Linked DNA regions of Homo sapiens: region 1 is linked to region 2. Evidence: fine-mapped expression QTL. A gene starts in region 2. The other region holds a variant in brackets. All regions are shown on one strand. Distances are between the middles of the regions.

Region 1 (4,391 bases), 190 kb before region 2:
GTACAAGCTCCTCCTTGTACCTCTGGTAGAATTCAGCTGTGAATCCATCTGGTCCTGGACTTTTTTTGGTTGGTAGGCTATTAATTATTGCCTCAATTTCAGAGGCTGTTATTGATCTATTCAGGGATTCAAATTCTTCCTGGTTTAGTCTTGGGAGGGTGTATGTGTCAAGGAATTTATCCATTTCTTCTAGATTTTCTAGTTTATCTGTGTAGAGGTGTTTATAGTATTCTCTGATGATAGTTTGTATTTCTGTGGGATCGGTGGTGATATCTCCTTTATAATTTTTTACTGCATCTATTTGAGTCTTCTCTCTTTTCTTCTTTATTAGTTTTGCTCGTAGTCTATCAATTTTGTTGATCTTTTCAAAAAACCAGCTCCTGGATTCATTGATTCTTTGAAGGGTTTTTTGTGTCTCTATCTCCTTCAGTTCTGCTCTGATCTTAGTTATTTCTTGCCTTCTGCTAGCTTTTGAATGTGTTTGCTCTTGCTTCTCTAGTTCTTTTAATTGTGATGTTAGGGTGTCAATTTTAGATCTTTCCTTCTTTTTCTTGTGCACATTTAATGTTATAAATTTCCCTCTACACACTGCTTTAAATGTGTCCCAGAGATTCTGGTATGTTGTGTCTTTGTTCTCGTTGGTTTCAAAGAACATCTTTATTTCTGCCTTCATTTCGTTATGTACCCAGTAGTCATTCAGGAGCAGGTTGTTCAGTTTCCATGTAGTTGAGTGGTTTTGCGTGAATTTATTAATCCTGAGTTCTAGTTTGATTGCACTGTGGTCTGAGAAAGAGTTTGTTATAATTTCTGCTCTTTTACATTTGCTGAGGAGTGTTTTAGTTCCAACTATGCGGTCAGTTTTGGAATAAGTGTGATGTGGTGCTGAGAAGAATGTATTTTCTGTTGATTTGGGGTGGAGGGTTCTGTAGATGTCTATTAGGTCTGCTTGGTGCAGAGCTGAGTTCAATTCCTGAATATCCTTGTTAACTATCTGTCTCATTGATCTGTCTAATGTTGATAGTGGGGTGTTGAAGTCTCCCATTAGTATTGTGTGGGACTCTAAGTCTCTTTGTAAGTCTCTAAGGACTTGCTTTATGAATCTGGGTGCTCCTGTATTGGGTGCATATATATTTAGGATAGTTAGCTCTTCTTGTTGAATTGATCCCTTTACCATTATGTAATGGCCTTCTTTGTCTCTTTGATCTTTGTTGGTTTAAAGTCTGTTTTATCAGAGACTAGGATTGCAACCCCTGCCTTTTTTTGTTTTCCATTTGCTTGGTAGATCTTCCTCCATTCCTTTATTTTGAGCCTGTGTGTGTCTCTGCATGTGAGATGGGTCTCCTGAGTACAGCACACTGATGGGTCTTGAATTTTTATCCAATTTGCCACTCTGTGTCTTTTAATTGGAGCATTTAGCCCACTTACATTTAAAGTTAATATTGTTGTGTGTGAATTTGATCCTGTCATTATGATGTTAGCTGGTTATTTTGCTTGTTAGTTGATGCAGCTTCTTCCTGGCATTGATGGTCTTTACATTTTGGCATGTTTTTGCAGTGGCTGGTACCGATTGTTCCTTTCCATGTTTAGTGCTTCCATCAGGAGCTCTTTTAGGGCAGGCCTGGTAGTGACAAAATCTCTCAGCATTTGCTTGTCTGTAAAGTATTTTATTTCTCCTTCACTTATGAAGCTTAGTTTGGCTGGATATGCAATTCTGGGTTGAAAATTCTTTTCTTTAAGAATGTTGAATATTTGCCCCCACTCTCTTCTGGCTTGTAGAGTTTCTGTTGAGAGATCCACTGTTACTCTGATGGGCTTCCCTTTGATGGTAACCCAACCTTTCTCTCTGGCTGCCCTTAACATTTTTTCCTTCATTTTAACTTTGTTGAATCTGAAAATTATGTGTCTTGGAGTTGCTGTTCTCAAGGAGTATCTTTGTGGTGTTCTCTGTATTTCCTGAATTTGAATGTTGGCCTGCCTTGCTAGGTTGGGCAAGTTCCCCTGGATAATATCCTGCAGAGTGTTTTCCAACTTGGTTCCATTCTCCTTGTCACTTTCAGGTACACCAATCAGATGTAGATTTGGTCTTTTCACATAGTCCCATATTTCTTGGAGGCTTTGTTCATTTCTTTTTACTCTTTTTTCTCTAAACTCCTTTTCTCACTTCATTTCATTCGTTTGATCTTCAATCACTGATACCCTTTCTTCCAGTTGATCGAATCAGTTACTGAAGCTTGCACATTCATCACATAGTTCTTGAGCCATGGTTTTCAGCTC[C/G]GTCAGGTCGTTTAGGGACTTCTCTATGCTGGTTATTCAGTCAGCCATTCACCTAATCTTTTTTCAAGGTTTTTATCTTGTTTGCAATGGGATCAAACTTCCCCCTTTAGCTCGGAGAAGGTTGATCATCTGAAGCTTTCTTCTCTCAACTTGTCAAAGTCACTCTCCATCCAGCTTTGTTCTGTTGCTGGCAAGGAGCTGCCTTCCTTTGGAGGGGGAGAGGTGCTCTGATTTTTAGAGTTTCCAGTTTTTCTGCTCTGTCTTTTCCCCATCTTTGTGGCTTTATCTACTTTTGGTCTTTGATGATGGTGACATACAGATGGGGTTTTGGTGTGGATGTCCTTTCTGTTTGTTTTCCTTCTAACAGTCAGAACCCTCAGCTGCAGGTCTGTTGGAGTTTGCTGGAGGTCCACTCCAGACCCTGTTTGCCAGGGAGTGCCTCCCAATTAGGCTACTTGGGGGTCAGGGACCCACTTGAGGAGGCAGTCTGTCCATTCTCAGATCTCAAACTCCATGCTGGGAAAATCAGTACTGTCTTCAAAGCTGTCAGACAGGGACATTTAAATATGCAGAGGTTTCTGCTTCCTTTTGTTCAGCTATGCCCTGCCCCCAGAGGTGGAGTCTACAGAGGCAGTCAGGTCTTCTTGAGCTGTGGTGGGCTCCACCCAGTTTGAGATTCTTGGCCGCTTTGTTTACCTACTCAAGCCTCAGCAATGGCAGTCACCCCTCCCCCCAGCCTCACTGCCACCTTGTAGTTAGATCTCAGACTGCTGTGCTAGTAATGAGTGAGGCTCTGTGGGCATGGGACCCTCTGAGCCAGGCACGAGATATATTTTCCTGGTGTGCTGTTTGCTAAGACCATTGGAAAAGTGCACTATTAGGGTGGTAGTGACCCAATTTTCCAGGTGCTGTCTGTCATGGCTTCCCTTGGCTAGGAAAGTGAGTTCCCTTACCCCTTGCACTTCCCAGGGGAGGTGATGCCTCACCCTGCCTTGGCTCTTGCTTGGTGGGCTGCACCCACTGTCCTGCACCCACTGTCTGACACACCCCAGTGAGATGAACCTGGTACCTCAGTTGGAAATACAGAAATCACCTGTCTTCTGCGTCACTCATGCTGGGAGCTGTAGACTGGAGCTGTTCCTATTCGGCCATCTTGGAACCACTATGTGGTCGATTTTAGAATAAGTGCTATGTGGTGCTGAGAAGAATGTATATTCTGTTTATTTGAGGTGGAGAGTTCTGTAGATGTTTATTAGGCCCACCTGGTTCAGAGCTGAGTTCAAGTGCTGAATATCCTTGTTAATTTTCTGTCTCATTGGTCTGTCTAATATTGACAGTGGGGTATTAAAGTCTCCCACTATTATTGTGTGGGAGTCTAAGTCTCTTTGTAGGTCTCTAAGAACTTGCTTTATGAATCTGCGTGCTCCTGTATTATAAAGTCTGTTTTATCAGAGACTAGGATTGTAAACTCTGTTTTTTTTTCTTTCCATTTGCTTGGTAAATATTTCTCCATCCCTTTATTTTGAGCATAAGTGTGTCTTTGCACTTGAGATGGGTCTCCTGAATACAGCACACTGATGAGTCTTGACTCTTCATCCAGTTTGCCCATCTGTGCCTATTAATTGGGGCATTTAGCCCACTTACCTTTAATGCTAATATTGTTATGTGTGAATTTGATCCTGTCATTATGGTGCTAGCAGGTTATTTTCCCCATTAGTTGATGCGGTTTCTTCATAGTGTCGATGGTCTTTACATTTTGGTTTGTTTTTGCAGTGGCTGGTACCACTTTTTCCTTTCCATATTTAGTGCTTCCTTCAGGAGCTCTTTAAGGCACACCTGATGGTGACAAAATCCCTCAGCACTTGCTTGTTTGTAAAGGATTTTATTTCTCCTTCACTTATGAAGCTTAGTTGGCTGGATATGAAATTCTGGGTTAAAAATTTTTTCTTTAATAATGTTGAATATTAGCCCCCACTCTCTTCTGGCTTGTAGGGTTTCTGCTGAGAGATCTGCTGTTAGTCTGATGGGCTTCCCTTTGTGGGTAACCTGACTTTTCTCTCTGGCTGCCCTTAACATTTTTTCCTTCATTTCAACCTTGGTGAATATGATGATTATGT
Region 2 (4,391 bases):
AAATTACCAAAAACAAAAAAGGAAAAGGAAACAAAATGCCACCCCCTGATGTTCAGCCATCTGTCTTTGCACCCGCAATAACTTTACTTTCCATGTCCAAAGAAGTATAAAGATGTAAAATTAGGTATTTAAAGAAATAAAATGAAGATCCTCTGTGTCATCAGAATGGTAACAGATCTTTGTTTTTAGGCTTTTCTGAGGAATGTTGTGATGGGGATGTCAGCAGAAAGAGGTGTCTCTTGTGTCCTGGTAGGAACACCAGAAATGTGTACCCAAGAATGTCAGATACCAGAGGTGAAGAGTAACCCAGATGGAGGCAGGGAGGGAGGGGGCAAGAGAGAAGAGGGGAGGAGTATTCAGCATGACTTGCATAAACCATGCCATCTATTGCTAGGGAAAAATTTTTCAAAGTGCTTTTCGAATGGAATGGTTTAGAACAATGCTAACCTGTGGAGCAGACATGCCAATCAGCACCAAAAATTAGTTTTTCCTAAGAAGGAATGCCAAGGTCACGTTACCCTTTTTAATACAATAAGAGAAAAGATTCCATTCTGGATGCCACCCCAGGTCTCCATCTGCCTCCATTTCATGTGAGTTTTGGTTACAGCCCATAGCTACATTTCCCCCATTAGATAGCAATACTGTGGTGTCCGCAATGAACTGCATTTGGAAGAAGCAAGATGTCACAGGACAAGAAATCCAGAAGCCAATCACCTGTGTCCAACTGGCAAAATAAAACATCTTATTTAGGTAGCAGCTAATGTAGACAGCAAGAGTACCCAACATAGAGATCCAACCACACTTCTGACTTAGTAACAGGTGGCTGAGAGTAAAGGTGCTTCTCCGTCCCAAATGGTTCAATCATGTTGAGAGATTGTTTTGTACTCCTTCCCCATCAAGTCCTTCCTTATTTCCAATTCCTTCTTGAGTTCATTGCTTTATAATCTAATCATGCCATAAATGGCATACACAGTTCCTTGAAATTATACTACAAGGGGGTGTATGTGCTAGCTCACAACATGAAAAAAAAAAGTCTCCTCTAATTTGTTTCCATATTGCAGACATACATATTCTCTAACTACCCTGCAGGTTTTCCTGCAAGCATTTTACCATTACTTTTACATAATCAAACAATAACTGTTCGAATATACGAGGGATTCCCTTATGCTGTACTTCAAATAAGCACCAAAGGCTTTTTCTTATTCTGTTTTTATAGGACTATTTTCTGTCACTTCTAAAAGATCTTTAAACACGAACTATGTGGGGGCAGAGGTTTTTTTTTTTAAGTTTCGCCCTAAGATACAAAGAACAAAACATAACCAGAAAGAAGGAGACAGCAGATTATGAATGCGCCTCTCAGCTGGACTGCCATCCTCACAGGTCGATATCTCACAGGTCTATAGGGGTGCTGGCTTGGCCCAGTTCATCCTCTGACTTGGATCTGTCCTGCTGGTCCTGATGGCACTGCTGCAGGCTGTTGAGGAAGACCACCTCAATATGCTCCCGGTTGGCTTTTGAGACAATCCACATCTGTGTTGGTGATCTTTGCCAGCAGCTCAGTCAGGGCATTGCAAGGGAGTGAGCTCACTTCCTCATGTTGCTGAAGTCCACAGATAGCTGCTCCTACACTTCCAGTTGCAACCATTGATGGCGGGTACATTGCATACAGAGCATTGAAGTTCTGGACTTGCTTGCAGATTGGAGACAGCTTCTCCCGCTGCTGGGGCAGCTTGTGCAAGATGTACTAAATGAAGTCATGAGGCGTGACAGCTGCCAGGTTCCACTTCAACTTTCCCAACACCACCAGTTCCCACTCCAGCAGCTCCTGAGGCTTGATGGAGTTGTCGGTATAAATGCACAGCTTTTTGGCAGTCAGTGGGCTGGACTCTTTGAGCCTGGAGGCCAGGAACATGCAGACAGCACCCAGGAGTTGCAGATGGGACTTTGAAGTTGGGATCCTGGCGAAGAAACAGTCCAGGTAAATCGTGGCCAGAGGGAAAACCTTTTCTTCACACTTCTGTTCCTCACAGACCTCCAGCATTAGTTAACAGGTGGCTGAGAGTAAAGGTGCTTTTCCATCCCAAATGGTTCAATCATGTTGGCCACCATCAGAAGTGGCCACCAATCAAATGGCCACCATCAGAAGTGGCCACCATCCTGTGCATGTACGGCTGGATGGCCTTCTGCACACACTTGAAGTAGGAGCATTACTGAAGGTAGCGCTTCTTGATAGCAAGCAGGTTCTTCAGGACACGGTCAACTTGGAGTAGGTTGCAGTCCCTCGTGGCTCTGAGGACCGGGTCTACCTCACAGCCCAGCAGCTGCATGGCCAGCTCTGTGACCCCTCACTCCCCTGCTTTCTCTGGACTGGAAAAGTGTGTTTGTTTTTGTTTTTGTTTTGGAGGGGGAAGGCAAAAGCATTCCCCTCATCTCCTTCCTTTGGCTCAATAGGGGGTTTTCAGAGGAGAGGTGAGGGCAGAGACAGAAGGTGGAGGAGAAGAGAGGTGAGGATTGGGCAGTGGGCGAGCAGAGCTTCCCTGCCTGCCTCGCTCACATCTCTCCTCCCCTTCGAACTCCACCTCCTTCTTTAGTGTGTCCCAAGGAACCTTATTTGGGTTGGGGCCAAAGAGCAATAGAAACGAGGGAAGGCAGCAACATAGGGATCACAGTCTATGAGGGTTAATATTGAGTGTCAACTTGATCAGATTGAAGGATGCACAAAGTATTGTACCTGGGTGTGTCTGTGAGGGTGTTGCCAAAGGAGATTAACATTTGAGTCAGTGGACTGGGAGAGGCAGACCCACCCTCCAGCTGGCTATATCACAATCACACAGGAAGAGGAAGTTTTAACTAGGCTGAAGTGATGGGGTATAGCTGAGTTTCAAATAACTTATGTCAGACCTAAAAAGGCATGCCAAGGAAGCAACGATATTAAACAAGTCTACTAAATATGACACTATTCTTAGATGGGAAAACAGGAGTCATGCAAGTGTTATTGCTGTATAGCAGTTCTGAAATCCAGCTGGGCAAATATCGAGTGCCCCTTGATAAAGACGCTATCCTACTCCTGCCAATGAGTTATTCTATACAGTTGTTGGTTCTGACATCTGGTCTCTGGGTTCTGCCTAAGAGACATCCTTCCTTTTATATTAAAGTTAGTATGTGGTTTTCGGTGTGTGGTTTTTTCCACCTGCTCTCTGAAAGTAGAATCCAGGGGTGGAGGGGGAGGTAAATAGCACCATTTCATTTTGTACATTCTCTGTTAGTTTCTGTCCCAACTAGCAGTGTTTCTGCCCATGTAATTCTATTAAACTTTTTCTTGGTCTCTTGTGACTCTTACTGGAATCTGCTCCATTAGACAAAAGCCACACCCAAAATATCTCCATTCATATAGATGGACTATGATATTCTGCTGAGAGGTAATGACATTAAGATTCTTAGAAACCTCATTTCTGTTTGACAGAGTTTGAATGTAATATCCTTAACCATCTTTAGAGAGCTTTTTGTCTGGGCTACAATCTCAGTTTATTGTCAGTACTTAACAAAAGGCCATTTAAGCTGCACAGTCTGGTGGTTCAGAGACCCTGTTGCCCACCAATGTTGTGCCTCACCTCAGTGCATACCCTCAGGTGCTTGGGTGTCTGTTGTGATCAGATGACAGAAGAAAATAGCCTTTCTAGGTTCAGATATAGAATGACTTGGTATATGGGAAAAGTAAAACTTAGTGAAGTAATGCTTCCCTCTGGGGGCCTTGATAGTCACTGATGACTGTTAACCCTCTCAATGCATTGAGCTTCAAGTAATACAACTGATTATCTACTTTGTGTATAAATAAGATAATCCTGAGGTAAGAATACAGAGACTAGGAGCTCCAGATGACTTTGTTTGATGGACTGGACCTATAAACAGAAAGATTGGATAATAGGAAGGAAAGAGGTCTGGGAAAGAGGCATGGGGATGCACCTGTGGAGTGGGCATGAGGTGTGAAGGTCTTTCTATTACATGGAACACCGTGGAAGAAGGAGAGAAGCACTAACCAATCAAATATCCATAATGACAGAGTTGAAGTCCACCAGGCTCTGTCATTAGCCTCTCCAATGCAAGCAAACAGGGTTCCTTCTGTGGCTCAATTCCAGACTTTTCTGAAGGGCCATTCCAGGTTCACATCTCCCCATGGAATGGCTTCAGGCCTGTTTTGCAACTATATTATGGTTCAACAATTAGCTCCAATCAATCATATTTCATCATGCACTTACATAAGAGCATGCCTTAGTAAACCCCTTGCACACACATTTCTGCCTCAGAATTTCTTTCCCAACCAAGACAAATACTAATATTTTCATGTGCCTGCAGTTAAACATGACAAGATAGCATGAATGTTGTTTCTGCAT

Which allele goes with the higher level. Alleles are on the strand shown, and positions count from the first base shown. SD is a standard deviation of normalised expression in the study named.
For the expression in nucleus accumbens of the gene that starts at base 1,813 in region 2, allele G in region 1 goes with a lower level than allele C (small effect, 0.23 SD a copy in GTEx).

Evidence for each region. PIP is the estimated chance that this variant, and not a neighbour inherited with it, causes the effect.
Region 1: its variant is the best candidate, but not a certain one, in a credible set for the expression of SLC22A25 in nucleus accumbens (GTEx, PIP 0.53).

The regions. Positions count from the first base shown.
Region 1 is chr11:63,429,487-63,433,877 of GRCh38, reverse strand. No RefSeq gene overlaps it. Among named protein-coding and RNA genes, the nearest start is that of PLAAT5, 59 kb to the left of the region's middle. The variant C/G (reference allele first, on the strand shown) is at 2,275.
Region 2 is chr11:63,241,021-63,245,411 of GRCh38, reverse strand. It overlaps SLC22A25 (solute carrier family 22 member 25), which reads left to right and starts at 1,813. Exons shown (of 12, transcript NM_199352.6): 1 at 1,813-1,978. It also overlaps the pseudogene CCND2P1.